2 separate regions of the Homo sapiens genome follow, and region 1 is linked to region 2. A link means that fine-mapping ties the variant in region 2 to the expression of a gene that starts in the linked region. Tissue or cell type: whole blood. Region 2 holds a variant in brackets; the other region holds the start of a gene. All regions are shown on one strand. Distances are from middle to middle.

The links. PIP is the estimated chance that this variant, and not a neighbour inherited with it, causes the effect.
Region 1: it holds the start of PTPRS, and the variant in region 2 is fine-mapped to the expression of PTPRS in whole blood (TOPMed, PIP above 0.99).

Annotation. Positions count from the first base shown.
Region 1 is chr19:5,339,309-5,341,987 of GRCh38, forward strand. PTPRS (protein tyrosine phosphatase receptor type S) reads right to left here and starts at 1,504. Exons shown (of 38, transcript NM_002850.4): 1 at 1,356-1,504. RefSeq lists a silencer at 1,432-1,711.
Region 2 is chr19:5,261,646-5,264,324 of GRCh38, forward strand. PTPRS (protein tyrosine phosphatase receptor type S) reads right to left here. Exons shown (of 38, transcript NM_002850.4): 6 at 1,319-1,327. Among named protein-coding and RNA genes, the nearest start is that of PTPRS, 78 kb to the right of the region's middle. The variant G/T (reference allele first, on the strand shown) is at 1,405.

The sequences.
Region 1 (2,679 bases), 78 kb after region 2:
GAGGAAGGGTTGCAGAGGAAGGGGCGTTCTTGGAAGCTGCATATTTAGGGAGACGAGAAGACGATTTGAGACTGGGGAAAGAGGGTCAACCGAAGAAGGAGGTCCCAGATTTGGGGCGGGGGGTGTGGCTGAAAAAAAGATTCCCAGTTTGTGGGAAAGGTTCCCTGATTTGAGGATTCTGGAGAGAAAGCGGCCGAAGGGGAGTTCCCCAATTTGGGAAGGGGGGGAATTGGTGGGAAATGTCCAGGATTTGTAGGGGGAGGTCCGAAGGGGAGGATCTTAATTTTAGGAGAGATTCCCATAAAGAGAGGTGAACTTGGCCGCAACCTGGCCGAACCCTCGCACCCACGGCGCGGGCACTCTAACCTGGGGGGCTCCCCTCAGGGCACGCCCCGCGCCCCCTTTAACCCAGTGCCGACGGCCCCGCCCCCGGTATGACGTCACCTCCCCTCCCCCCGCAGCCCCCGGGGGCTCCCGGGGCGTGCGGAACCCGCGGGGCTGGCGGTTCCAGGGGCGGCTTCCCCACTCTCGGGATCCCCACGGGGCCCCCAGCGCGGAGGGGAGACTGGGGTGCTGGGCGTGCGCGTCTGCCTGCCAGAGCCCCTGGGGCTGGGGGCTGAGGCTCGCCCCTGGGTGGGGAGGCTGGAAGGGGGCGCCGAGGCCGCAGAAGGGTGGGGCAATGCCCGAGTGCCGGAGGGGCGACCTCCCATAAGGCAACGACAGGGCCCGGAGTGTTCCAGGGGAGACGGCGTAGACTAGGGGGTCTCCAGGGGAGGGAGACCCGGAGAGGGAAGGCGGCGGGCGCAGCAGCCCTGGAGCCACCCCGCCTGGAGCCACCCGTCCCGGCTCCTCTCCGCTCCGGGGCGCCCGCATGCCCCCCATCCCCCGGCACAGCGCCCCCTGCCTCCAGGACCCGCCCGGGGACCCGGGCCGGGCGCCGCCGGGGCCGGCACCGGCTCCGCACACACGCGCGCCCCCCTCCGCGCCTCTGCCCCGCCCGCAGCCCGGGGTGGTGCAGCCGGCGGCGCTGGGCAGCTTCCAATGCCGCGCTCTGGGCGCTTCCAGCCCAGCCCCCTCCCACGCCGCGGACGAAGCCCCCCCAGCACCCCCTGCCGAGCGCCCCCAGCGCGGCCCCGGCCCTGTCCCTCGGGGCATTGTCCGGGCGCAGCTACCGGGGCGCAGCGGCTGGGCGTGCAACTGGCTGCAGCCGAGCATCCTCCGAGCACAATGGCCGTGCAGGCTTCCCCGGCACAAAGCCGGCGCGCTGCCCACTCGGCTGCCTCCGAGACCCCCCTTGGAGCGCCTGCATTTTTTTTTCCTCTAATCCATGATTTTATTTTTTTTTTTGGCTTTACCTGGAGGCTGGCTGGGCTGGGCTCCCCCGGCTCTGCCCCGCTTCACATCGTGGCTGTTGCATGGGATCCGAGCGGAGCCCGAGCGCCAGCGGCTCGCGGCGTGCGCGCGCCGGCCGGGCTGCCGGGCGGGCGGCGCGAGGACACTCACTGCGGCTCGCGCTCCCCTAGCTCCCGCTCGCGCGCCCCCCCAGCCGGTGACGTCATCCCTTCCGCCAGCGCCGCCGCCGCCGCCGCCGGGTCGGGGGCAGGGCCGGCCCGTGCGCGTCACTGCGCAGCCGCGCGGCCGCCACGCCCCCCGGCCAATGGGACGGCGCAGCGCGGTCACGTGGCTCCGGGGTGTTTAAAGGGCCGCGGGAGCACGTGGGGCGCGGGGCTTCGCGGGACACGTGGGCGGCTGGGGTGGTGGTGGTGGTGGCGGCTGCGGCGGCGGCGGGAAGGGCCCCTGGGGCTACTGTCCGTGCGGGAGCCCCAGCGTCCTGGGTGCAAAGGGCATGGCACTTTCTGTGCGCTGCCCTAAACTGTGCCACGGCTCCCCAGTACCCTTGGAATAAAATCCCGCCTCCTCTCTGCAGCTCGCCGTTTCACATTAGCGCCCACTACCCTGTCCCCTCCCCCCCACCATGTCAATGATCCAGAAAAACCAGCTGCTCCTTCTTTGCTTTTTCAGAGATGGGGTCTGCCACCTGGGCCTCAGTACAGTGGTATGATCATAGCTCACTGCAGCTTCAAACTCCTGGGCTCAGGTGATCCTCCCGCCTCAGCCTCCTGAGTAGTTGGGCTCGGGTGATCCTCCCGCCTCAGCCAGCTTCTTACAGTTCCTCTAACTTGAGCATCCAAGAACTTCCCCTTCTCATCTTTCCAATTTCTGCTCAAATAAGCAGCGCCTGGGAGAAGCCCTCCCTGACAACAGCTACCAGCCACGCCCCACTCCACTCTATCCCATTATCCCGGTTTGTTGTTGTTGTTGTTGTTTGTTTGGTTTTGAGTCGGAGTCTCACTCTGTCGCCCAGGCTGGAATGCAGTGGCGTGATCGCGGCTCACTGTAACCTCCGCCTCCTGGATTCAAGCTATTCTCCTGTCTCAGCCTCCGGAGTAGCTGGAATTACAGGCGTGCTGTCACCACGCCTGGCTAATTTTTGTATTTTTGTTAGAGACAGTGTTTCACCATGTTGGCCAGGCTGGTCTTGAACTCCTGACCTCAGTGATCCGTCCACCTCGGCCTCCCAAAGTGCTGGGATTACAGGCGTGAGCCACCGCGCCTGGTCCCATTATCCCGTTTTTATTCTAGTTACACTACAGTGTGGCTCCAGAGATCCCTATTGTA
Region 2 (2,679 bases):
AAAAGCAGCTCCTTCTGCGTGGCCCAAACCCATTTTGCAGACGGGCCAACTGAGGCTCAGAGGGGAATCTCTGAGGTCCCATCATGAGGCAGGGGTGGGCACTGAGCCTAGCTCTCCAGCCTCCTGGGATGAGGAGCTTCTGGCCTGAACTTTTCGGAGTCCCTGAATTATCTTTCGAGGTGTTCTCGTGAGGCCACTCTGCACCCTTTAGAGGGGAGCAAACAGAAGTTTGCCTAAAGTTACACCCTGGAGAACTGGAATCCGAGTCAGCGGAAATCCAGGCTGGCCTTTGCTAGGACACTGGGATGACGATGGTGGAAGTCAGGGTTAAAGAAAGTCTTTTCAGGCCGGGCGTGGTGGCTCACGCCTGTAATCCTAGCACTTTGGGAAGCCGAGGCAGGTGGATCACCTGAGGTCAGGAGTTTGGGGTACCAGCCTGGCCAACATGGTGAAACCCCGTCTCTACTAAAAATACAAAAATTAGCCGGGTGTGGTGGTGGGTGCCTGTAATCCCTGCTACTCAGGAGACTGAGGCAGGAGAATTGCTTGAATCGGGGACGTGGAGGCTTTAGTGAGCCGAGATGGTGCCACTGCACTCCAGCCTGGGTGACAGATTAAGACTGTCTCAAAAAAAAAGAAGTCTTTTCAAGTTGGCCAAATCACTCAGGGCTATTCTATCAAGTGGAAACAATGTATCCCTTAGCCATTAAAAGGTGTTCCGCCTCCCACCCTGAGAGAGATGAAGGGACTGATAGCATAGGCTGATATCAGTCACTCTCACTTTAGTATGAATTAGTCCCACAACTGATTTCAGGAGATTCAGGCTGAATGCTGAGAAAAGTGGATGAGAAGTGCCCAGTAGCAGCTAGGCTGGAAAAATCTCCACTCCACGCCCAGCCCCAGCCCCCAAACTTCTGTAATTAAATCCTTTTCCAGCAGGGCTAAGGCCAAGAAAAAAGTGCGGGAGGAAATGTTGTTAGGTGCGAAGTTCCATGAGCCCGAGGATGCCTCTGAACCCCCCTCAGCCTGCATTTTGAGGTCTGCCTGGCCTTGTCTCTTTTCCTCTTTTCCTTTGGGTGGACTTGTCTCTTTTCCTCTTTTCCTTTGGGTTTCTTTCTCTGCCGCACACTAGTGCCAGCTGGGGAGGGCTGAGGGGCCGGTCGCGGGGAGGAGGGAGAGGGCGTTAGTAAACATACCAGGCAGAGTGGGTCACAGTTACCATCACGGTGGCTGTTAGTTTGGTGAGGAGAAGGGGAGCAGAAGGGGCACAAAGGGGATGGGGCGTTAGTTGTTGACGTGGTGATGAAATCAGACTTACCAAAGGTTTCTGAACGTTTACAACAGGAGGATAAGAAAAGAGAACAGGAACGTTAACGGGTGGTTACAAAGAATCCTATGTCCTCA[G/T]CGAGGAGGGGAGGGCGGGGGAGGGGAGGGGGACGCTCAGAATAATAATAACAACATTTCTTATGATTCCTAAAGTGGCTTATGTTCACTGAGCACCTAGCAGGCGCTAGACATTCCATCCTGGAGAGGTCACCAGAACACAAGGAAAATAGGCATGTTTTATGGGGAAACTGAGGCCACCGCTCCCCCTGCTTGCAGAGGCCTATGAGCTGCAAACATCCTCAGCCAGGCTGGGAGATAGGAGGCGATTTGTCCCCCCAGTGTGAGGTCTGAGTCTCTCCAAGGAAGACATTCTGGGCTCCACGTCTGATCTTTTTGGGGCTTGGTTTTCACTAAGGAGGAGGAGCAGAAAGCGGAGAACAGGTAGGTAGGCTCTTTGGTGGGGGGCAACGATGGGCAGTGAGTGAGGGGCGCTGGGGATGATTCGGGGAGGTACTGCTGCAAAGGGGGCTCCGTGGCGGGATCCTCGGAGGAAGGGGAGAGAGAAAGCAAAAAGAGGGGTGTGTGGAGGTGCAGGGTGATCTCAACAGTGACCTGAACGAAGGCAGGGCGTCAAGCCCGGCACAACTGAAAACAGTAAATCCGTGACACAGACAAACACGCATGTGCAGCCACACGTGTGCTCCCAATGTATGGAGACACATCCCCACCACGTGTGTCCCCACGCACGAGCACTAGGGAGGTGCAGGCTGAGAGGCGCGTGCGCGGATCACTGCCCTGTGTGCACAGGCACGGGAGTGACTGCAATGTGGGTGCACGTGTGGCCGAGATGCAGGCGGACACTTTGCTCCGGGCGGGGGAAGGGAGGCCCGTGTGTGACAGCAGCCAGGCCTGCACACCTGTGCCCACAGGCGGGAGGCAGGCCAGGCCGGCACAGGGAGCCCAGACATGCACACGTGGACATGTCGTGAAGCGGGGGGACAACACACACGCAGACACAGCCCCCCAGACAGATGGACCCACAGATGGGCCATGTGGGTGCTTTGTGGAGACACAATGGTGGAACCACCCGTCTCCAAGGCTCTGTCCCAAGGTCTCCCTAGCCCAGCCAGGGCCTGAACAGACAGGCTGGACTGCCCGTCTGTGCCCCCTTACAGACCTGAAGCCCCGCCATCACCTCTTACTGCTCAGCCTTGGAGAGACTCTCTCCCTGTAGTTTTCTATGGCTCCCCATCACCTTACTTGTCACCTCTGGACACCTGCCATTGCCTTACACAGCTTCCACTACTCCTGCCTGTCTGGGCCCCACTGTATTCTCACTGGACGTGCCTAATG